3 separate regions of the Homo sapiens genome follow, and all the other regions are linked to region 1. Evidence: fine-mapped expression QTL. A gene starts in region 1. Each other region holds a variant in brackets. All regions are shown on one strand. Distances are between the middles of the regions. Region 1 holds the start of MPP7 (MAGUK p55 scaffold protein 7). Region 2 has its middle 21 kb from the start of C10orf126. Region 3 has its middle 75 kb from the start of MPP7-DT.

Evidence for each region. PIP is the estimated chance that this variant, and not a neighbour inherited with it, causes the effect.
Region 2: its variant is fine-mapped to the expression of MPP7 in lymphoblastoid cells (GTEx, PIP above 0.99).
Region 3: its variant is fine-mapped to the expression of MPP7 in cerebellum (GTEx, PIP above 0.99). The same link has a PIP of 0.9 or more in cerebellar hemisphere.

The regions. Positions count from the first base shown.
Region 1 is chr10:28,298,619-28,307,133 of GRCh38, reverse strand. MPP7 (MAGUK p55 scaffold protein 7) reads left to right here and starts at 4,070. Exons shown (of 17, transcript NM_001318170.2): 1 at 4,070-4,273. MPP7-DT (MPP7 divergent transcript) reads right to left here and starts at 3,965. Exons shown (of 2, transcript XR_930772.3): 1 at 2,705-3,965; 2 at 863-1,735. RefSeq lists a silencer at 3,884-4,523.
Region 2 is chr10:28,820,806-28,829,320 of GRCh38, reverse strand. No RefSeq gene overlaps it. Among named protein-coding and RNA genes, the nearest start is that of C10orf126, 21 kb to the left of the region's middle. The variant C/T (reference allele first, on the strand shown) is at 5,002.
Region 3 is chr10:28,374,073-28,382,587 of GRCh38, reverse strand. No RefSeq gene overlaps it. Among named protein-coding and RNA genes, the nearest start is that of MPP7-DT, 75 kb to the right of the region's middle. The variant G/A (reference allele first, on the strand shown) is at 3,419.

The DNA of each region.
Region 1 (8,515 bases):
GGTGCAATGAATGCGTGTCTGGTAATCTGCCCAGTGTGTCTTCTCTGGGAAACCTCTGCTCATAAACAGGGATGGGCCCTGGCAGCCATACTGGTCCCCTGCAGCCCCCATCATCTATGATTAGGGTTAGGGTTAGGCAGGTGATTTAGTCCTTGTGGGTGCAGCTCTGGAACATCATTTCTCTGACACTGGGACATAGGAGCCAGGGGCTGGTTATCAGAATAGGAGAATAGAGCACAGGTGTAGAGAGAGCACCTGCTATGGAAAAAAATTCCATTGAGTTCCTCCTGGCTTTTCAGGTCTGCGATCTGGGTCTTCCTGAGGACTAACTTATTTTTGCCTTTGGGTTCTATTATACATCTATCTAATCTATCAATCAACGATCTATTATCTATCTATCAACTATCTATTATCTATCATCTATCTATCAACTATCTATTATCTATCATCTCTCTCTCTCTCTCTATCTATCTATCATCTATTTTAGAGACAGGGTCTTACTCTGTTGCCCAGGCTGGAACGCAGTGGCAAAATCTCTGTTCACTGCAGCCTAGAACTCCTGGCCTCAAGCAATCCTCCCACCTCAGCCTCCCGAGTAGCTAGGACTACAGCTGCACACCACCAAACCTGGCTAATTTTTAAATTTTTTGTAAAGATGTCTTGCTATGTTGCTCAGGCTGGTGTTGATTTCCTGGCCTCAAGTAATCTTTCCACCTTGGCCTCCAAAGTTGTTGAGATTATGGGCATGGGCTACTGTATGCAGCCTCTTCTGTCTATCTAATGAATTTCTGTCCTCTATTAGGGTGAAGAGATAGCTTTTCAGTGGCTTTGAAGCATTGTGCCAAATATTTCAAAGATCACATTTTAAAATCTACTTTTTGATTTATTTAGTTGCTGCAAATTTTGACTTATCTGTCACTAATCAGCTGGATGTACTGAGATACTTTGACATTTCCTAATGTCTGGTGCTTTCTCTTTCTGGCCCTCCATAGTGAGGGCTGGATCTCTTCCCTTATAGGTATCTGCTAATGCTGGAGGCTCAACTGATAAAGTAAAGATAGCCATCCCAAGAAGCAGGCGGAAAGGCTGGGGCTAATAGAACAGATCTCTACTCCAGGGGCTTCAATTCTGCCCTAGTTCTGGTCAAATAGGATTAATACTGCTCACCGTTACTATCCTAAAAGGGCTGTCATGGTTGAAAGTGGGCATTTACTATTTTCAGTGTCTTTTGTTGCTGGAATAAAGGAGATGATAATATGAAACAAAAATCAGGTTGCTTCTCCTCATATTTTGCTCAGCTCCCAAGCATTCAGAATGTCGTTACTAATTAGACATTTGTTTCAACATTCTGGGGCCATCCAGGCTAGGCAATCTTGTGATGTGGGGAAAGTTGACTGGTTATGCAATGGCTTTGCATTAGATCCCCTGCTCCCTTGCAGGCGCTGAATGCTCTTCTGTTGTTCTCTGGATCTAGAACCCTGTCCCTTTTCTCTGGGATGGCTCCTACTGATGTTTCAGCTTATTCCTCATTTGCTGCAGGACAGTCTCCTTGGCCCCATAGTACTCTTGATTTCCCCATCACCTGTGCAGTAATAGTTTCTCTATAGATCCACCAGTCTTGTCTTATTCATTGTTATATCCACAGATCTAACCTATTTCTAGTAAACAGTAGGTTCTTCCTAGATCCATTCCTGATGATTGGCTTAATGAATGAATGCTCATTTTACTGGTGACTCTGAAAAAGGAAAAAAAAAAATAATGATTTTACTCCACTATCAGCAACTCGATGTTGCCCGTCAGGAATCCTTGTAACAAAATACAAAGTTACCATTGCCTACGAGGTCCTCACCTCCTTCTCCAACCTGTCTAGTAGCACTCTCCTTATGCACCATGATACCCATGCTGGCTTTCTCTCTGTTCCTGCTATACATCACTTTTCTTCCTACTTCAAGTCCTTTGTTCTTGCTATTTTATCTGCCCTGGAGTTTTGCTAAGTTGGTGTTTTCTTATTTAGGTGGTGCCTCAAATCTTAGAGCATTTCTCTTAGATCATTTCTCCTTAAAGCATTTTTCTCCTTTCCCAAAATTAAGTGTGTCTCCCATCCCTCTGGTCACTGTTTTCTTCTTTGCCCTGATCCCGGTCTGGAAGTTTATCTTTTTATTGGATCATTGTCCATCTTCTGATAAAAACAGCTGCAAGTCTGTCTTGTTCAAGGCTATACTCTGAGTGCTTAGTAGAAAGCCTCGTTCATTGCAGTATCTAGTATTTGATGATTAATATTGATTACGTTTGATGAGTAAATGAATAAAAGAATAATCTTAGACATACATTATTTAATCCCAGTGAAAGAATGTTAGTGATGGAATTTCAGGTGTTATTGTAGAAGAAACTTTTGAAGGGTATTCCCTACAGTTTGTTCATACTAGGCTAAGTTCCTCTTCTTTTCCTTACACAATGTAAAAATATTAGATCTCAAAACTATTTGCTCAAAGTACTTACTTTAGGACACGTATTTTTAGACTACAGTTTAGAATTACAGTTATTATTAGAAAGGTTTGGTAAAAACTCTTTTTGTTAGGCAATAAGGTTATTCTGTCCTCCAAAGACCTTTACTTTATTCTCAGGAAGTAAGAGAGAAAAAAGAATTTCTTGTCTTCTTTCTATCAGGTGTTTTGCCCTTACTTCTCTTTAAGTTTATGTTTACCTTAACATTCCTTTCCTTCCTCAGGTTTGCTTTTTGTCTATCTCCATTTTTCACTATTACGTAATTCACGGAGTTGCTGGGGGGAAGTGCTTAATTTCAAATAGCCTGTTTTAGAACTTTGCGAGAATGACAAGAACAAACAGAATGTTAAGGCAGCTAGAGAGAGTTAAGTGAGAGTGGTCCCTAGGTGAGAAATGCTTCTTGCCTTCTAGGCTGACACCAGTTCTGGGGGATGTGTTCTGAGAGCTCATATTAACTGCAGGTCATTGATCCTTATCTCAATCCCCTTCCTCTCCCTTCAGCTTTCCATTCAAAGTCTCTATCACATCTTGAAGTGTTGTCACATTATTTTTTTTCTGATGATTCCCTCCATCAGCTGAGCTTTCCAATTTATATTACCTGATTTTTTTTTGTCTTCTGCTTTTTACTACCCCTTTTTCTAAAGCTTTATTGATTGTGTACTTTGGATTCTAATTCTTCCTATAAGAGTCTTCCTGTAATTCTGTTTGCAGTGTAGTGCTGTCCACATTATGTGTTGGTTACATGATAGGAAGGAGTATGGGGGCACCTCGGTCACATATGTAAAGTTCTTTAAGAGAGCTGAAGGGCGCTGATACCAGTTCATGTTTTTTCGGGGTAGCCCTCAGATATTAAGCATGTTTACTGTATTTTCTTCTATTGTGAAAGAATCAGTTCTCTGGATTTCCTTAAAGTTTGTCTTTACCATTCTCCGCACCCTACTCATTTTTCTATTTAAGAATTTTTTTTTCTAATCATGTAGTACATGTTCAATATGGAACACAAAAAGGTAATAAGAAAAAGTCACCTACAGTGTCGCCAAAGGTGAAAACACCTTATGTCTTTTTTCGTGCATAACAATATCCCTCTCAATCTTATGCAGCATTTTTAAACCTAGGAGACTTGTCTGAATCCAAAGGAAGTTAAAGATTACGTTATTCACCAAGTTCATACTGAAATCAGAGAATCGCAGCGGCTTAAGAAAACTCGCATCTGGCGAATGAACCTGCGTATCCGGGGTTCTCCTCAGGGAGGTTGCTCGTCCATGAAACACACTCCAGTCTGCAGCCACCTGGGAGTGGGAACCAAGGGCGAGCGAACCGGGCGGGCAGGGGTGGAACTTGCGGGGACTGCGGGTATGAGGAGGAGCTACAGAGCTGTCACCAATCAGAGCCCAGCTTTGTTTTCTCTTGCCGACCAATGAGGGAGTTCTGCTGGAGAGGCGTCTTCAAGTCTGAGACGCCTATCGCCTTCGCAGCCTATCAGCAGGCCCCTCTTACCCGCGGGCGGTGCAGCCCCGCCCCGCCCCTCCAACCGCGGTCCCGCCCCTCCGAGGGTGGGGGCCGTGTTGGTTACTAGCCGGGCTGGAGGCGGGGGCCGGGCTCCCACTGGGCTCGTGCGTTCTGCGCCCGCCGCGGCGGTGCCGAGCCCGCTGGCTCCCGATTGTCCTCTGCGGCGGTGGCGGTCGCTGCCTCCTTGCCTCCGGGCCCGGGGCTGCAGGGGCCAGAGCGAGTGCGCCTCCTGCCCGCGGACCGCGGCAGCCCAGAGCAGGTAATGGGGCGCCTCTGGGGAGCGCCTGTCGGAGCCCAGGGCTAGGCTCGGGCGGTGGGGTCGGCCCCCGAAGCTGCTCCCTGCGCCGGCGACCGGGCCGAGCGGTGCCGCGGTCCTCCGGAGCCTCCTGCCGGCCTCTAGGCGCCTCAGCCTGGGAGCCCGCGGCGGGCACCTTGTGAGGAGGTGGGGGCGGGGCCGGGGCAGGGGCGGGGCCGCCTCGGGCGGGACCCTGAGGACCCCTGGAGACCCCTGTTGACGCGCGGGACTCCGGGCGGGGGCGGCGGCGGGGCAGACCCAGAGCGGGGAGAACCGACAGGTGGAGGAAAAACTGCGGAGTTGAGTCAGAGTCCGGCTCCCCGGGGAAAAGAACCGACTGAAAGGGAGCGATAAGCTGGCTGGCTTCTTTTTTTTCTTTCCCTAAGCCAGAAAGGCGTCTTCACTTGGGTCGTGTTAATTACATGTTTTCTGAGAACAGGCGTTTGGCCGTGTAATCTACACGATAGCATTATTTATTTACTTATTTGCTATTTAAAAAATTAAAAGCAGCATTTAGCGTGAATCTATTTGGGGGCTTTTTCTTAAGTGACAGGTAGACCCAGCCGAGTAACTCAGCTTTGTCTGGGCTGAAGTGGGGAGCGGTGAGGTAGGAATGAGGGGGAGGAGTGTTCGTGAGGAATGCCTGTGCAGGTTTGAAAGGATTGTGGGGGTGGGACCTTGTTTCTGTCACTGTGCCATGGGTGGGAGTAGAATTGTGATTTTTTTCTTTTTCTAATTTTTAAAAGCAATATTCACATTTAAAAAAGGGGGGGCTCTCTAAAAACAGTCTCTGTACTCGAGGCTTTGGGGATGCACCTGCTAGTCAGGCAGTAATAGTTTGCAGGTAAATCCTGGGCTATTAATTACGTAATTTGATTTACTTATAAAGAAGTATCTTGAATTGTTGCTGCCTTTCCTTTGACTTGCTCAATATATTGCTTGTTTACAAGTGAATTGATGAAGGTCACTGAGTTTTAGCGGTAATGTCACAGCGATGGCCCTTGGAGAGTTTTCTATGCTCAGGTTCACTCTGGTTCTATAAAAACAGTATTTCCATTTAATCGTGAAGCTCATAGCACTCTATCAATTATATAGTATGCCATCCTCCTACTCTTCTGAGGCAGGCTGTGCATAGCATGTCCATTTTACAGGTATGTCAACTGAAAGCCCTAGAAATGAAAGGAATCCTGCCCCACTTTACTCCTACTTTATTTTATACCTATAATGGATTTAATCCAAAATCTGGGTAAGATTCCCGCCATCAAGCCAACTTCTGCATACCAATTTGATCCCGTATACACAGGTCAGAGGTGGAGATGGTTATTTTCAAGTAAAGAAATATTATCTGCGAGGTTTTTCTTTCCATTCAGGTTGCTTAGCTAGTTTGAATTTCAGGTGAAAGGTAATTTTCCACACAGGCAAAACAAACAAAAGTTAGGAATGCTGTGTGAAAATCTCTATTTTAAATTTTGGGAAGCTTTCCAAATTAGAGAACCTTATTTGTGTTTGCATCTCTAGCTCAGCATTGAATTTCGGTACCTTTTTTTGAATTGAATAGAAATAATTGATATGCAGAAGGAAAATACTAATGAAGTGTAATGCATTTTGATCATGACTTATGACTTTGTTTCGGGAAGTGTTTACTGTAAATTTATAGACGGATTGAAGAATAATTTCTTAATTAGAATAACTTGACCAAAGGAGTTTGGGCATTAGTGTGGGACAGGCTGAAATGGGTAGTTGGGAGTAGCCGCTTGTATGATGTTAAGGCTTAGGGAATTCTAGAGAATCGTTAGGTTTTGTTAAATTTACTAGTTATCAGGAACATGAAAATGTCTTATGGATTACTGAATGGAACTCTTTTTTTTTTTTTTTCTGAGGTGGAGTCTCACTCTGTTGTCCAGGCTGGAGTGCTGTGGCTCACTGTGATCTCTGCCTCCCTGGTTCAAGTGATTCTCCTGCCTCAGCCTCTTGAGTAGCTGGGACTACAGGCGCATGCCACCACGCCCAGCTATTTTTTTTTTTTTAATATTTTTGTAGAGATGGGGTTTCACTATGTTGGCCAGGCTGGTCTCGAACTCCTGACCTCAAGTGATCTGCCTGCCTTGGCCTCCCAAAGTGCTGGGATTACAGGCGTGAGCCATTGCACCCAGCCTGAATGTAACTGTTCTAATCATGAAGTTATCTCTTGTTTTGTGGCTAATACCTCTGTTTCACATGTACATTTTAACATATTCATGTAACATATAAGGCAACTCTTCTTACACAAGGCTGTCACTCTAGCCCAGCATTTATTTACTTATTTATGTTTTAGTGGCTTTATTTAACTTTTACTCTCCTGTCAAAATTTCTAGCACCCAAGCAAAAATTTCCATAAAGGAACTTTTATCATCTGTTGATTATACAGAAAATGAATCATTTATTCTCATAAGCCCAGCCCTCTTGCATTGTGGGACACTGGAAAGATATTTTGGCTGTTTGTAAAGTATTTGCTTGTATTCTTACCTGAAGCTTTGACTTCTCCCCCTCCCCCAATGGTTTTCAGAGTTTCTGTGACTTTTTTCTTTAAATTAATTATGACACTACCTGACTTCCACTAGATGGTGCACTGGGGGGCGCTTACTGGAGATTTCAAACAGATTTTTGTTTTTCCTTGTTATAAACATTTCACTGACAAAGATACAAAGGTACTGCAGCTGTTTCTCTCCTAATTGCAATTCAGACAAAATTGTAATGAATGACTTAAGTCTTGAGTTTTGGCCAGGCATGGTGGCTCACGCCTGTAATCCCAGCACTTTGGGAGGCCGAGGCGGGCGGATCACAAGGTCAGGAGATTGAGACCATCCTGGCTAACACGGTGAAACCCTGTCTCTACTAAAAAATAGAAAAAATTAGCCGGGCGTGGTGGTGGGCGCCTGTAATCCCAGCTACTCGGGAGGCTGAGGCAGGAGAATTGGCCTGAACCCAAGAGGCAGAGCTTGCAGTAAGCTGAGATCGTGCCACTGCACTCCAGCCTGGGCCACAGAGCGAGACTCCGTCTCAAAAAAAAAAAAAAAAAGTCTTGAATTTTGTTAAATGAGATACATTCGGAAGGAAAGGGTATTCCTTCATTTTGAATTTAAAGTGAAGGAAATTGTTAGTCAGGCTTGCTCTCTGAAGATACTGTGTTTTTTACAAACTGAAGGTTCGTTGGCAACCCTGCAAGTCGATTGGTGCTATTTTTCCAATAGTGTATGTTCATTTTGTGTGTCTCTGTCATATTTTGGTAATTCTCACAATATTGCAAACTTTTCATTGTTATTCTGTCTGTTATGGTGATCTCTGGTCAGTGATCTTTGATGTTACGATTCTAATTGTTTTGGGGCTCCATGAACTGCACCTATATAATATGGTGAACTTAACTGATAAATGTTACATATGTTCTGATATCTCCACCAACTGGCCATTCCCCAACTCTCTTCCTCTCCCCAGGCCTCCCTATTCCCTGAGACACAACAATATTGAAATTAGGCCAATTAATAACTCTACATTGGCATCTAAGTATTCAAGTGAATGGAGAGTCGCGTGTCTCCCACTTTAAATCAAAAAGCTACAAATGAGTGAGCTTAGTGAGGAGGTCATGACAAAAGCTGAAACAGGCCAAAAGCTAGGCCTCTTGCACCAAACAAGCGAGCTCTGAATGCAAAGGAAAGGTTCTTGAAAGAAACTAAAAGTGCTACTCTGCTGAACGTCCAAATGATAAGAAAGTGAAACAGCCTTATTGCTAATATAGAGAAGGTTTTAGTGGTCTGGATAGAAGATCAGACCAGCCACAACATTCCCTTAAGCCAGCAGAGCAAAACCCTCTCTTCAATTCGATGAAGGCTGAGAGAGGTAAGGAAGTTACAGAAGAAAAGTTGGAAGCTAGAAGAGGTTGGTTCATGAGGTTTAAGGAAAGAAGCTGCTTCCCTAATGTAAAAGTGCAAGGTGAAGCAGCAAATGCTGATATAGAAGCTGTAGCATGTTATCCAGAATATCTAGCTAAGATCACTGATGAAGGTGGCTACACTGAACAACAGATTTTCAGTGTAGATGAAACAGCCTTATATTGGAAGAAGATGCCGTCTCGGACTTTCTTAGCTAGAAGGAAGTCAGTGCTTCACCTCAAAGGCCAGGCTGACTCTTTTGTTTGGAGCTAGTGCAGCTGGTGACTTTAAGTTGAAGCCA
Region 2 (8,515 bases), 520 kb before region 1:
TATAAAGTCTACCATTACTTAGTATACATCAATATACTTATCCATCCTGCCATCACTGGACATTTGAGTTCAGGTTGTTTTCTTTTTAGAATTATCACAAGCAATATTGCTATGAAGAATCTTATGCATGTCTCCAGATCAAAAGTGGTGCAAGAGTGTCTTTAGGGTATATATTAGGTTGAACCACATGAAATTGCCATTTTTGTATGTCACAGACAGTCTAATTACTCGCTTACAGGGTCGGCATGTGTTTGACTTAATTCCTAATAAATTATTTTATAAAATGGTTTTATCAACTTGCACAAACACAGCAGTGTTTGAAAGCTCCCTTTGTTCCACATTCCTGCCAATACTTGGCTTTGCAAGACATTTTGATTTGGGCCACTGTAGAGGATGTGTAGTGATGTCTCATAGTGGTTATCATCATCCTGATAACCAGTGAGGTCGAGCATTTTTCATTTGTGTATTAGTTATTTATGTCTTCCTCTAGGTCATACCTGTTCATATTTTCTGCCTTTTTTTAAATTGGAGTGTTTATCTTTTCCTTATTAATTTATAAACATTTAAACAGATGAGTATTCTGTATACATATTTTTATATAAAAGGTTGAGTATTCTGTGTATATAATATACAGAATATACTTTATATTACAGAATACTCATCCTTTGTCCTTTATGTGCTGGTATATCTCAGATTATGACTTGTCTTTTCAGTCTCTCATTGATGTCTTTTGGACAGAAGATCTTGATTTTATTGTGATTGAATTTATTGATATTTTCCTTTATGATTTGTGCTCTCTGTGCTTGTTAAAGAAATTCTGCTCTACCCCAGGGTCATAAAGATATTCTTTCTATATTTTTTTCCAAGTACTTTAAAATTTTACCTTTCACATTTTGGACTGTAATCCACCTTGCCCTCTGACTTCAGCATTGTCATCTGAAAACAGACTGTGAGACGGCTTTCGTGATTTTTCCCATACACATGACCGACTGTCCTGGTGCCCCTTGTTGAATAATCTGCCATTTGTACACTGATCTGCAATTATCAGCTTGGTCGTGGATCAAACTGCTATATTTGGCAGGCCTTTTCTTGGGCTCTGTGTTCCATTCCTGTTGTCTCTCTGGGCTAATAGGCACTATCTTAATTGCTAAAACTTTATAGTAAGTCTTGATATCTTGTAGACGTCAAGTATCTTGTAGATAATCTTGATATCTTGTACATGTCCCACCTGGTTCTTTTCAAGATTGTCTTGGTTATTCCTTGGTTATTCCTATCAATTTACTCTTCTATTTAAATTTTATCACCATTGCAGTGGCTCACACCTGTAATCCCAGCACTTTGGGAGGCCAAGGCAGGCAGATCACCTGAGGTCAGGAATTCAAAACCAGCCTGGCCAACATGGGGAAACCTCGTCTCTACTAAAAATACAAAAATTAGCCAGGCATGGTGGCATACACCTGTAATCCCAGCTACTCAGGAGGCTGAGGCAGGAGAATCATTTGAACCCGGGAGGCAAATGTTGCAGTGAGCCGAGATTCAGCCTGGGTGACACAGCAAGACTTTGTCTCAAAAAAACAAATAAATAAAATAGATTAAGTTTAGAATTTGCTTATCAAGTTCTGCACAAAATATCCTTTTGGCATTCTTACTAAAATTGCATTAAGTATCTTATCATTTTGGGTAGAATTGCCATTTTTATTATGTCTTTCTACCATGAATATGGTTCTCTCTCCATTTATTTAGCATTTTTATTACAACTGAATACAATTGTATAATTTTCTGCATGAAGGACCTGCACAGCGTTTGTCAGATGCATCTGGGTTATCCTGCCTTTGCTTTCCAAGTGTACCCTCCATCCTTCCTACCATGTCATGTGCCCAGGAGACTGACTCTGTGGACAGCATCGACAGGCTCTCTGGATCCTGACTCCCTGGAATGTTGGAAGTAGAAAGCAATGGGTGGGAGATCAGAGGGCAGAAGAAGAGTGAATTGGAGGTCAGGCATGGTAGCTCATGCCTGTAATCCCAGCACTTTGGGAGGCCGAGCCGGGCGGATCATTTGAGGTCTGCGGTTCGAGACCAGCCTGGCCAACATGGTGAAACCCCGTCTCTATTAAAAATACAAAAATTAGCCAGGTGTGGTGGCGCACATCTGTAATCCCAGCTACTTGGGACGCTGAGGCACGAGAATCGCTTGAACCCAGGAGGCAGAGGTTTCAGTGAGTCAAGATCGCACCATTGCACTCCAGCCTGAGTGACAGAGGGAGACTCCATCTCAAAAACAAAAAACAAAACAATAAAATAGAAAAGCCATGCATAGCGGCTCACGCCTGTAATGCCAGCACTTTGGGAGGCTGAGGCGGGTGGATCACCTGAGGTCACGAGTTCGAGACCAGCTTGGACAACATAGTGAAACCCCCGTTTCCACTACAAATACAAAAATTACCCGGGCATGGTGGCAGGCGCCTGTAGTCCCAGCTACTTGGGAGGCTGAGGCAGGAGAATCACTTTCAACCCAAGAAGTGGAGGTTGCAGTGAGCTAAGATTGAGCCACTGAACTCCAGCCTGGGTGAAAGAGGGAGAGACAAAGTCTAAATAAATAAATAAATAAATAAATAAATAAATAAATAAATAAAAAGAGTGAATTGGGTCTTACTTCCCAGCACCTTCTCTACCAGGCAGCCGGTAGGCAGTGACTGTGCTCTTCTCCTGAAACAAACACCTCCCGCTTGCAGCTCCAGCTAAAGCTGAAATTCGCTCCAGCTTCTGCTTCCCATTCTTGCCTCCCAGGCCTGAGGGTCCCTGGCTGTTACTTGCCCGGGGGTTTGATCATCTTCGCTGGTATCCCTTCGCCCCGCCCAGACCTTTGCAGTCATTCAACTGCGTTGGAGTTGCCACCTATTTCCTGTAGAGACCCTGCCTGATACAACTGTGAGTGTGTGAAATTTCTCATGCTTTGTAAATTCTTTCGCGTTTTCTACGTAGAAAACCGTATCATCTGCAAATAGTAATATTTTATTTTTTTCCTTTCTGATTCTTACACTTTCTACTTTCCTTACACCGGCTTGTGCTCCAGAGCACTGCTGGTCTGCAGCGGCAAGAGCAGCCACCCCTGTTTCATGCCTGATTTTTAAAGAGAAGGCTTTTCATAATTCTCTACTCATAAGATGTTGGCTGTCGGTACAGGGATTTCCATCCTAAACCTTGCTTGCTAAGATTTTATCATGAATGGTTTATGAATTTCCTCAAATGCTTTTTCTGAATCTATTATGATCACAGGATTTTTCTCAAGACTACTGATATGAGGTATGACATAGTACATTTTATAACGCTAAATCAATCATTCTAGAAATAAACAGTACTTGTTCATTGCTTGCTATGGTTTGCTATTTAGGATTCTTGTCTTTAGATTGGTCTGGGGATCTTTTTTTCTCCTAAATGTCCTTGTTTGCTATTGGAATCTGGATTACATTTGTCTCATAAAATAGGTGAAAAATGTTCTGTCTCTTTCTATTCTTTGAGTTTGTATAAGCTTGAAACTAGCTGTTCCTTGAATATACAGTAGAAACTACTTATAAAAACATCTGGGATTGGTGTTTATTTTGTGGGAAGATTTTTAACTACCGACTCAAATTCTTTAAAAATTATAGGGCCCTTCAGGTGTTTATTACTTAAATCAGTTTTAAAATTTATACGTTTCTAGGAATTTTTCCACTTAACCTAAGTTTTTAAGTATTTGACATTAAGTTGATCATAGTATTCCCGTAAAATGTAATCTCTGCTGCATTAGCAGTTATGAACTTCATTCATTCAGATATTGTCATTTCTCTTTTTATTGATCTTACAAAAAGTTTGTCATTTTAAGCAGCTTTGGCTTTGATAATTTTGCGTCTTTGTTTCTTATTTTATTTCTTATTTCTATCTTATTATTTCTTTCTTCTTATCTTCTTAAGATAGATACATAGCCTTTCTTTTTTTTCCAGGTAAGCATTTAAGGTTAGAAATTATACTCTACAATATGACTTTAGCTATGTCTGCCAAGTTTCAACATATAATATTCCTGTTTTATTCAATTTTTACTATTTTCTAATTTCCACAATGGTTTCCTCTTTGAGCCATGGGTCCTTTTTATGTTTTATTTATTTATTTAGAGACGGAGTTTCACTCTTGTCGCCCAGGCTGGAGTGCAATGGCACGATCTCGGCTCACTGCAACCTCTGCCTCCCGGGTTCAAGCCATTCTCCTGCCTCAGCCTCCCGAGTAGCTGGGATTACAGGCGCCCACCACCACACCCAGCTAATTTTTGTATTTTTAGTAGAGACGGGGTTTCACCATGTTGGCCAGACTGGTCTCGAACTCCTGACCTCAGGTGATCTGCCCGCCTCAGCCTCCCAAAGTGCTGGGATTACAGGCATGAGCCACCACGCCCAGCCCATGGGTCTTTTTTAACATTACATGATAAGAGATTTATTTTAAGTTTATCTTTTAAACACTGATTTCTGGTTTATTTGTATCGTGCTAGGGACTTTGAGATTTGTAAGCTTGCTTTATGACCTGTTAAGTATAGGTGTCCCTCAGGGGCATTGGTTCCAGGACCCCCGTGGATTCCAAAACCCAAAGATGCTCAAGTTCCTCATATAAAATGGGAGTAGTGTTTGATTATAACCTATACACATCCTCCTATACACTTTAAATCATCGCTAGATTACTTATAGTACCTAATATAATGTAAATACTATGTAAATAGTTGTTATATTGTAGTTTTTAATCAGTAGTTTTTCATTGTTTTTGCTTTGTTATTATTTCATATTGTTTTGTTTTCATTGTTTTATTGTTACCTTTTTTTTTTTTTCAAACACTTTCTACTCAAGATTGATTGAATCTGAAGTTGTGGAACCACAGATACAGAGGGCCAACTGTCATCAATTTATAAATTGGCCTATGAGTACTTAAAAAGAATGTGTATTGACCAGGAACTGGGCACATTTTACACAGACACACA[C/T]ACACATACATACATATATATGTATGTACATTTCTCAGTAGATTAATATTGGTAATTGTGCTGTTCAAATCATCTATGTCTCCAATGATTTTTTAGTGAATCTATCACTAATTCCAAGAGAGAGATGTTTTAAAACCTCGATTTATCCTTAAAACTGTTAACTTAGGCTTTATATGTGATTCAGTGCCTACAAATTTAGAATTGTAACTTTCTGTTTAATTGAAACTTCTACCATTATGTTGAAACTGTAATAAATTATTTTTGCCCTTAAGCTAATTTGTCTTGACATGGTCCTATCTGCCAAGTCACTGAAGGCATCAGCATCCTGTGCTAGTTAAGTAATAACTGGAAATCTGGAATACAGAACCTGTCTTTTAGTAGCCACTAAATAAATTATTGTTGAAATAGTGAATGAATGGATGAATGAATACACCCAACTGACTGCCTGAATAGACAGTCAAAATAGCTTTCAGCTGAAGAGAGAAATTATATTCCCACCCACTTGTTTTTCATCCTCAAGCAAAAACCACAATACTGTAGCCAACACGAGAGTCTGTCCAATCAGTGCATTTCACCAGAGAAGCAATCTCCCCCTCCCTTGCAAATGGTGATTTTAAGGAAAAACCTTAACACTCTTTCTTAAGGAAAGTGCTTGGATAGGTTGGAAATTGAGTAAAGCTGTCAGTGACTCCACAGGGGGGAAAAAAGTTATATTTGCTGCCCCTGGTTGAAAATCAAAACAAACTTAGAATCAAACATTTTTATGGTCTGGAAAATGTGTGCTTGAGAAGATGCAGAGGAGTCCAGCAATTAAAAGGATATGAAAACATTTCATTTCTCTTGCATCGAATTAGTTTGCTGTTTGCAAATTTCAGAGATAAAATCACGTGGGTTTTCAGATCCTGTGTCTTATTGTAACAGATTTCAGGGGTGCAGGGTGGAGAAAGAGAAACAAAGACTAATGGAGAAGAGAAAAATAGAAGGAGTCAGACACAGAGAGAGGGAGAGAGAGGAAGACAGAGAAAGAGAGAGAAAGTTAGAGGCAGAGGCAGAGAGAATCCGATGGTGTACGCCCACTAAGAAACGTGCTCCCAACTGGCAAAGGGAGGAAAGGAGAAAGAAACCCTCCACCACTGAAGTTTATTTGCCTCACTTCTTTAGCTCTGGAAATAATAGATAAGGAGGAAACAGGGGGACTGGAAGGCGGGAGAGCAAAGGGAGGTTGTAAAACACTTTAATACATTAAGCTGAGGGAGGATTCCAGTGCTGGCGCTGAGGTTTCTTTCATTGATTAAGACCAGTGCCGACTAAAAGGGACAAGAGGGCGACCCCACATCCTCTCCTTTCCCTCTACAACTCCCTGTCCGTCTTTCACCAGCTCTGTCAGCCTGCATGTAAAGAGGCCTTCATCATATCTCAGAGTCCCAGCCCGGGAACCAGAATCAAGAGTTCATTGCCCCTCTGCCTGACAGGCCTCGCATTTCAGCAGTGTCAGGAAGCAGATGGAGATAACCCTTGCTTCCAGCAGAGAAGAGCAGAACCTGCAAATTTACATTCAGAGACCCATCTCATCCAACAGTCATCGTGGGGATTCCATAACACTTGATTTCTACCCAAAGAGAGCACTCATCTCAGTCTTGCTCTGCTTAAAGTAGGGTTTGTTGTGCACTTGTCTTTGAAACCCCAGCCTCTCCACTCTGCTGCACCTATGCGGCATTGCCTAATTCATTCATTTCAGGCTTCTCTGAAGCCTGACCAACCAGAATCTTGTTCGTAGAGGAAGGACTCTGTAAATTTAGAATTGAATTGAAACTGGGGCCAAGTAAGGGGTTGCATAGCTCCCTAGAAGTAAAGCTTAGATCTTCTGGGGTCTCACTCCAGGGCTCTTTCAACCTGACCACACCCCTATCGCTCAAAAAGGCAGCTAACTTTTTCCTTCTTCCAGACAGCAAGTGTCCACTAGCCTGGCGTCAATAACAATCTATTATTCAAATGACTCCCTGTGTTCCTATTTCCCTAGTTGTTCATTCTGGTCTCTTTCTTCCTACTTTGCAATGTCTAGAAACTATTACTGAGTTTATGATACATAGAGGAGATCATCTCCTGAACTGATCAGGCTTGAATGTGTGCGTGGATAAGACACACAGATCATCTTTATCGAGGGGGTTTGACTTAAGAATACACAAGAAACTAGGACAGCCCAAAAGCAGGCTCAAGCAGCAGTATAGACAGGCAAATCGTGGTGCTTCCAAGTTCATGACATACATCAGGCCCTGGGGAGAGCTGAAGCAGTGCTGGCTTAATGCTGCTCAGAATCCAACCTGAGCTGTAGACCCATTTCATGTGATTTTCCTGGCCCAAGAAGCCAGGTCAGTTTGCCGCTGTCCAGTAAGGAGTCATCCCATTGGGCAGGATGTTTTAGCTGTTAGGTCTCCTTTGTATGTATGTATGTATGTATGTATGTATGTATGTATGTATGTATTTATTTTTAGATACAGAGTCTCACTCTGTTGCCCAGGCTGGAGTATAGTGGCACAACCATAGCTCATGGCAGCGTTGAACTCTTGGGCTCAAGCGATCCTCCCACCTTGGACTTCAGAGTAGCTGAGACTACAGGCATGTGCCACCACGCCTGGTTAATTTTTTTTTTTTTTATTTTTTTTGTAAAGATAGGGGCTTGCTATGTTGCCCAAACTGATCTTGAACTCCTGGCCTCAAGCGATCCTCCTGCATCAGCCTCCCAAAGTGCTGGGATTACAGGCATGAGCCACTGTGCCCAGCCAATCTCCCTCATTTAGATCCTCAGGTTCTAAACCCATATCAGTCTCCTGAGTCCTGGACAATAACTTGGTACCTGGGAAGGAAGGCTGGCACTTAGAGTGCCTTACTCCTCTCCAGGACATCTCTCCTAACAAGTAGAAACTATTTTTTCAACTTTCCCATAAGCATTATTAATCTGTTTTCTTCCCAGTCTCTTTCAAGTTGTTATTCAACTCTTCTTTCCTCAAGCTACTCTGTCATTTACTACTCAATAAAGTCGCTCAATTTACTTACTGTCTATTCTGCCAATCAATTTCTAAAAGGTCCTTCCTCTCATTACAACAAAGCACTACCCAGAAGCTCCGGTCCCTACTGTCTTCAGGAATTTCTCATGCCATGTCAATGTCCTCTTCCCATCATGCCAACCCCATCTCAGAGATCTGCAGATCTGAGTACACATGGCATAAAGATGGCAACAGCAGACACTGCAGACAACTAGAGGGAGGAAGAAGAGATGAGGAACGGGTTAGGAAACTATACCTACTGGAGACTGTGCTTAATACCTGGGTGACAGGCTCAATCATTCCCCAAACCTCAGCATCACGCAATATACTCATGAAACAAACCTGCACGTACACCCCGACTCTAAAATAGAAGTTGTTTGCCAGCTCACATCTGTGATCCCAACACCTTGGATCGCTTGAGCCCAGAAGTTTGAGACCACCCTGGGCAACAATAGGGAGAACCTCTCTCT
Region 3 (8,515 bases), 75 kb before region 1:
ACCACTCAATAGTGTTAGAGTGTATTGTTGTTTACTTAAGAATCTTTCTAGACGGGCGGCGGCTCATGCCTATAATCCCAGCACTTTGGGAAGCTGAGGCAGGCAGATCACGTGAGGTCAGGAGTTCGAGACCAGCCTGGCCAACATGGTAAAACCCGTCTCTACTAAAAATACAAAAAAGTAGCTGGGTGTGATGGTGCGCACCTCTAATCCCAGCTACTCGGGAAGCTGAGGCGGGAGAACTGCTTGAACCCGGGAAGCGGAGGTTGCAGTGAGCGGAGATAGCGCCACTGCACTCCAGCCTGGGTAACAGAGCGAGACTCCGTATGAAAAAAAAAAAGAATCTTTCTAGATCTCGGAGGCTGAATTATACTGCCAGGACCAAGAAAAATGGCCTCCACGTTCCCTTTCTTCTAGTTTACCGTTGTCTCCTCTGGGAGATTACCCCTAAGAGAGAAAGGAGGAGAAAAAAGGTCCTGTGTTGGATCCTTTCTTTCCCATGCATATTGATGGCGTACCAGCAGGTGGCAGTGTAACACCTTGCATGATACATTTCAGGCCCATGTTTTTTGCTGAGAAAAGCAGTGGTCAACGTTTGGTCTTTGCTTGGAGTTTATGAGACAATTATAGGATTGTGGTGAAGACAGCGCAGTTAAGGCTGAGGTGGGTATTGCAATATAAATCTCTGTCTTCACTTTTAACATATTTCAAACTGTTTTTTGGATTGCTTTTTCACATTTAGTTTTTCAGCTCAAAAGAATCATAGAATTAAAAAAGACATGAAATAATGTACATTTCCAGTTATTATTAAATGTTCCTTACTTTTCTCCTCTTTCTTCCATGCCATTAGCTCTCTGACAAGCATAACTTATGTAGTTGAGTGTTACTGAGGAACACTTGGTTTGCAAAATATGAAACTTTTGTTGAGCAACATTTATGACAGGCAAGGTTTAGAATTTCATGCTATAAGCCTATGGCTTCTTCATTTTCCATAATTAAATAACTTCTGAGAATGTGACTTCTCAGAAGGATGCATGAGAATTAAAACCAGCAGCTCTCAAAGATCAGATATCCACAGTTAAGAAAAACCCTTGAAATAAACACTTACATGGGTCAGTTTTTCCTTCTGACAAACATTGGCTTATTTCAACCTAATAGAATAATTAGATAATATCTAGCTTATTATAGGATTGTAATAGATTATTATTTTTGGCAAAACGACATCAGATAATATACACATGCTTCTTTAAGAGTTTTTAAAATAAAAAAATTGTAGAAATTAGTAAGTAAAAACTAGGCGCTTTCAATACAAATGTCAAAAAATGAAGGATTCTGATTTGTATTTGTTAGAGTCACTCATTAACGTCTCATGTATTTAATACATTAAATATTTGCTGGGTGTTTATTCTGGGATGAGCATGAGGGGACGTTGGTCTTTTTCCTGTCTCTGGACTGGGCTTTACACCATCGATTCCCCTTGTTCTCAGGCGTTCAGACTCAGTTTGGAAATACACAAGAGCTTTCTTGGGTCTTCAGTTTACAAACGGCTGACTTCTTAGCCTCTATAAGATCATGAGCCAATTCCTCATAATAAATCTCCTTCTTTCTGTCTCTGCCTATATCTATCTACGATTGGCTCTATTTCTCTGGAGAACCCTAATACAACCAGACACAAAAGGACAAATATTGTATGATTCTACTTATATGAGGTACTTAAGAGTAGGCAAATTCATAGAAACAAAAAGTAGACTAAAGGCTAGGCATGGTGGCTCATGCCTGTAATCCCAGCACTTTGGGAGGCTGAGTTGGGCAGATTGCTTGGGCTAATGAGTCTGAGACCAGCCTGGACAACATAGTGAAACACCATCTCTATGAAAAATACAAAAATGAGCTGGATGTGTTGGTGTGCGCCTGTAGTCCCAGCTACTTGGGAGGTTGAGGTGGGAGGATCACTCGAGCCCGGGAGGCAGAGGTTGCAGTGAGCTGAGATCACGCCACTGCACTTCAACCTGCGGGACAGAGGAGACCCTGTCTAAAAAAAAAAAAAAAAAAACCAGCAGATTAAAGGTTATAGCGGCTGTGGGGAGAGGAAATGGAGAGCTATTGTTTAATGTGTACAGAGTTTCTGTTTGGGATGATGAAAGAGTTCTGGAAATGAATATGGTGAAGGTTGGTTGTGTAACACTGTGAAGGTACTTAATGCCACTGAGTTATATACTTCAAAATGATTAATTTTTCTTTTTTTCTTTTCCTTTTTTTTTGAGAAAGGATCTCACTCTGCCCAGGCTAGAGTGCAGTGGCGTGATCATAGCTCACTGCAGCCTCAGACTCCTGGGCTCAAGCCATCCTCCCATGTCAGGCTCCTGAGTAGCTAGGACTACAGGTACCACCACCATGCCAGCTAATTTTGTTTTTACTTTAATTTTTATGTATAATAGACACAGGGTCTCGCTATGTTGCCCCGGCTAGTCTCAAACTCCTGGCCTCAAGTAATCTTCCCTCCTTGGCCTCCCAAAGCCCTGGGGATTATAGGTGTGAACCACCGAGCTCTGCCCTAAAAATTATTTAAATAGTAAATTATATATTATGTATATTTTACCACAATAAAAGAACATTTTTTTAGGCTAGGCACACTGACTCATGCCCAGCACTTTGGGAGGCCAAGGCGTGAGGATCAGTTGAGCCTAGGAGTTCAAGACCAGCCTGGGCAACATGGTGAGACCCCATCTCTACAAAAAAAAAAAATTAGCTGGGTCTGGTGGCATATGCCACTGTGCTCCCAGCTACTTGGGAGGCTGAGGTGGGAGGATGGCTTGAGCCTGGGAATTTGGAGCTGCAGTGAACCATGATCACAGTACCACACTCCAGCCTGGGAGACAGAGTGAGACCCTGTCTCAATAAAAAGGGGGTTTAAAAAAAAGGCAGAAAAGTTATAAGTGTTCATAGGAGAGTTCTGAGCAAAAGGAACGACATAATCCAAGGCTCAAGGGGCAGGAAAGATTGAGGAGGATATATTTTGGGAGAAACTTTAATCTCAGAAAAGCTCCCAGTTACCCTGACATGCAATTTTGGCAATGCAGGCTGGCAGGGTGATGGGGCAGATCTGGAAGAGAGGTTCTGAGGCAGCAGAGCCAGGGCTCAGCGCGGACACTTAAGTAGCTCAAGTCCTGCGATCTCTAGGACCCAGTGTCCTTGGGCATGGGTCAGGTCGTTCAGTGAGGTCCAATTCAATGAGCAGAGTCCTATGCTTCGGAAATTGAGTTGTTAGTCTAATACAGAAGTCAAGAGGGCTGGGAAGGATCCAGCTTGAACCTGGCTAGACTTGTGCAGAACACCAAGCCATCATTTCTGCCAGAAAAACGTGAAGAAAAATAGAACACAAAGAGCAGAACGAACCCACAAACTAGGCAGATTGCTC[G/A]TCTGGAAGAGGGTTGGCAATGCTCTGGAAGGAAGGCTCCCTCCTGACTTCCTCCTGGCTCCCTGGCTCCCAGCACTGACTGACAGGGAAGGCTACTGGGCAGGGCCATGCTCAGGAGCACAGGAGATCTGACCAGGCCAGTGGACTTGGGTCCCTGAGAAGCATAAGCCAATCCAAAACACTCCAGAAGTTGGGTGCAGGCTGCTGATGTACCTCTGTCAGGGCTACCTCGCCACCTGAGGAGCTGCATGGAACTAGAAGAGACCAAGGCAAAAGAAACGAAATGAAACTGATAGGATCATGGGAAACATACAGGGAAAAAATGGGAGAAAAGGTTGCAGGGAAGGTTAGGGCCAGCTTGCGGACAAATTCAATGCCAGGCTAAAGAGCCTGAGTAGAATTCCATGACTAACAGGAAGGTAGAAATCTCTTGAATAGAGAAGTGATATAAAGAAAACATTGCCTTTAAAAGATTCATCCAGACTGTGTGCGGTGGCTCACACCTATAATTCTAGCACTTTGCGAGGCTGAGGCAGGCAGATCACCTGAGGTCAGGAGTTCAAGACCAGTCTGGCCAACATGGCAAAACTCGGCCTCTACTAAAAATACAAAAATTAGCTGGGTGCAGTGGCGCTGCCTGTAGTCCCAGCTACTTGGGAGGCTGAGGCAGGAGAATTGCTTGAACCCAGGAGGCGGAGGTTGCAGTGATCCGAGATCATGCCACTGCACTCCAGCCTGGGTGACAGAGTAAGACTGTCTCAGAGAGAAAAAAAAAAAAAAAAGATTAATCCAGCATGTAGGATGGTTATAAATATAAGAGTCTATAAGTAGGTGGGAGAAAATAATAGCCAGAACTAGAATGGTGAAGTTGAATGCAAGATTCAGATGTATAAGTTATTTTTTTGTTGGAGAGAGGGAAGTATGCCACAATTGTATTTCCATGTTTCAATTGATTGCAGTCACTTAAAAATAAAATGTATTAATTTATTTTTCATTATAACTATTATACCCATAATAGGAAATTTGGAAAAATAAAAAAAAATAGAGGATAAAAAATAAAATTGTTCTCAGTCCTTTTTGCACCAGTATAGCCACTATTGATATCTTGGTATATTTCGTTCTTGTCTTTTTTCTTTACCTAATTATTTACATTGTGTTTTGCTTGTGTGTTTTACTAGTTGTGATTATGTTATGTATACAATTTTATATCAGTTTTTTTATTTAACATGGCCTTATTACGTAATAAGAATTAAGAATACAGACGTCGGCTGGCCATGGTGGCTCACGCCTGTAATCTCATCAGTTTGGGAGGCCAAGGTGGGCGGATCACGAGGTCAGGAGATCGAGACCAACCTGGCTAACACGGTGAAAACCAATCTCTACTAAAAATACAAAAAATTAGCCAGGCATGATGGTGGGCACCTGTAGTGCCTGCTACTCGGGAGGCTGAGGCAGGAGAATGGTGTGAACCCAGTAGGTGGAGGTTGCAGTGAGCTGAGATTGTGCCACTGCACTCCAGCCTGGGCGACAGAGCAAGACTTCATCTCAAAAAAAATAATAAATAAATAAATAAAATAAAAAATAAAAGAATACAGACATCTATTAAGAATACATGGCAGAACCAGACTGCCTGGGTTCAAATGCCAACATCTGCCATTAACTAGCTGGGTGACAACCTCTCTATGCCTCAGTTTACTTAGCCATAAAATGGTAGTAATAATAGTAGCAGTCTCATAGAGTTGTGGTGAGAATTAAATGTATTACTATATGGAAAGCCTTTGGCATCTGGCATATAGTAATTATATGTGTTGGGCATTTTACTAAGTTATTGTAAACGTGTGTTGGAATGGTTTGAAGATTTTCACTCAACATAGAAAGTAGGGAAATTTACAAAGAGTGGTGGTGCCCTTAACATTTACAGGAAAGAAGGAAGGATGGTTTGGAAGGTGGCAGGAATAGATGTGGGTTTAATTGTATCAAATTGAAGTTACAGGCAAAGAGAACAGGTGGAAGTATCTAAGAGGGCTTGAGATACAATACAGAGATTCAAAAGAGAGAAGTTATAACCAGACATCTGGATTTAGGGAACATCTGTCTACAGGTGACAGTTCATATCATAAGAAAAAAAATGAGATCACAAAAGTGTTGAGTTCAAAACTTTGGAGAACACCCGCATGCAAAGACTGAAAGACGGAAGTGGAACTAGGAGAGATGGAAGAAGAGGTAAAAAATCAGAAGAGGAAATGAGAAAGATAGGGAGGGTGTGATGGAGTTTGTTCATGGAAGCCAATTGATGTGGCTGAATCTCACAGTGTAACACCTTTGAACCCCTGGAGTCCTAAATGGGCAGTGGGCAGGAGCCTCTCCTCTGACCTCTTCCCCTTTTCCAGGGCAGAGCCTGGAAGGGGAGCATTAGAACACAGAATCACCCAGCCTTACGCCTTTCTCTCCTCTTCTCACAGTTCCCCACCCACTGCCCCCTTCTCCTGCTTCCTGGCTTGGTCCCCTGGAGCTCTGCTAAACCTTACATTGCTTAGGGCTTTCTCGCACAATAGACCTTTGTGAGCTGATTCCATAGAGCCTAGCGGATTAAATGCAGGGATGGAGGTGGGCAAGAGTAGGGGCTACAGGGGATGACCCATGACTCTCTTTAGAAATTGTTGCCATTCCTTTGATGACAACCATCTTTTCTTCTTTTTGAGACAGGATCTCACTCTGTTGCTCAGGCTGTAGTGCAGTGGCACAATCACGACTCACTGTAGCCTCTACCTCCTGGCCTTAAGCGATCCTCCCATCTCAGCCTCCCAGATAGCTGGGACTACAGGCACACATGACCACGCCCAGCTAATTTTTGTAGTTTTTGTAGAGACAGGGCTTTACCATGTTGCCCCAGGCTGGTCTTGAACTCTTGGGTTCAAGTGATCTGCCCGCTTGGCTCCTCAAAGTGCTGGGATTACAGGCATGAGCCACCATGCCCGGCCTGCTTTGGTGACAATAATCTTAATCTCCTTCCAGGTTTACAGATCCCTCAGGACAACTAAAGCAAGGGTTCATGTACTAAGCAGGGCAAAAACGTGGCATATTAATTTTTACGACAGTGCCTCGTAAAAGAAGGGTATATAATTGGAGGTACAAAGTAGGGTAAAGGCACAGGAAAAGAGGCTTGGAAAAGAGGAATGACAACTTCTAAATATAGGGAAGACTGAACATACCTCAACATTTTGAAGCAGAGGAGGTCAGTTGGAGGAGTGGCTGTGAGATGACTCAGCGGGAGTGTGGACAGACTTGAAGTGGTAAAGTGCAGGAACCCTGGAGACAGGCATTTGGGCTTGAAATTCCAGTTCAGCCACTTTCTATCTGTGATGCCTTAAGAAATGTCCTTAATTTCTGTATCTCAGTTTCTGTGTATGTTAAAAAAAAAAAAGTGACATTGACATAATAATATCTACCTCATGGGCTTGTTATAGGGATTAAATGCATTACTATATCTACATGTGAACTATATTTGCTCTAGATAATTAGGTAAAGGTGTGATAGGTGACCTTGGCAAAATGCAGGGGGTGGAGGCAGAAGAAACTCCATCCAGCAATTGTTGACAGCATTTCAGGCAGCCAGAAATTTAGCGCTAAGGAGACTCAGTGCCTGCTTTATTTTTCTCCGGTTGCCTTATCACCAACTGATTATGATTTTTTTTTTTAACGTTTTTTTGTGTGTGGGGGGGAGAGAGAAACACATGTATTTTAAAAGTCTTCACTGTTCTGAGAATCTTTTTGAATGAGAATGAGATAGTTCCTTTTATCTTCTAGAATCCAAATAAATTCTTCGAAAATTCTTTCTGATATTATTGCACATCTAGATGGGTTACTTCCCACCACTTTACCCCCTCTCTCTCTCTTCACTGGAAACTATAATTTCAGTAGTTGATTGAAAAGTTGATCAGCAAAGCCACATAAATGAAGAAGGACTTTTGAAATAGCCTCCAAATATTTTTCTGGCTAGGCACTAAGGAACACAGTTGACAGCTGTGTAGTATTTTCTGCTACAGGAATAACATTCCAACATCAAGTTAAAACTAATGCAACAAAAATATTCAATACTAAGAGAAAGTCACATGGCGGATTGCACCTTTAAAAAAAAAAAGTGTTTTTAGGCCGGGCGCGTTGGCTCATGCCTGTAATCCCAGCATTTTAGGAGGCCAAGGCAGGCAGATTACTGGAGGTCAGAAGTTCGAGACCAGCCTGGCAAATATGGTGAAACCCTGTCTCTACCAAACAAACAAAAAACTAGCCAGGCCCAGCTACTTGGGAGGCTGAGGCAGGAGAATTGCCTGAACCTGGGAGGGGGAGGTTGCAGTAGCTGAGATAGTGCCACTGTACTCCAGCCTGGGTGACAGGGACTCCGTTAAAAAAAAAAAAAAAAAATTTCAAGTAGCATTTAGCTGAGTTCCAGAATAAAATTTCTCCTGTGTGCAGACAGAACTTGTGTAGTTGTAAGGTCTCAGAAGGGTAAGTGCACCTGAATGGTGAAATGCTAACCATTTGGAAATATATTGATTATGAATTTATGTATTATGCATTATATTATATATTTATATATTTTATGTATAATACTTGTACCTATATATTTATATCATAATTATAATTATCAGCCTTCCACAACTAAAATGTAAGTTATCAGAGAACAAGGATTTTGCTCTGTTTTATTCACAATTAACACAATAGTTTAAAAAGTAAATGACTAATAGAATACATTAACTTGTAAGGAAACTTGTTTATAATTGAGCCTGAGTTCCACAAGATGCCAGGGTAGCTTTGGAGGGGCGGATGGGATGGGGTGGCGGTGCAGGAAGGGCTGTGGGGTGAGGTGGGGTCTGTGCTGGGCAAAGAGAGGGTGGATGGAGAAAGGGAGGAAGCCAAGGGTAGGAGTTCAAGCTACAGAGATGGAAACTGTGTTCTCATTGGAATGTTCATGGGAGGATTTAGTGGGACCCAGGTCAGGGAAATACATTCCTGTTTTGTTTTTTTTTTTCCAGTTTTGTATCTCTTCTGCTGTTAATTTTTTGAAAATGTGCATTTGTCTATTTTAAAATATAAATTG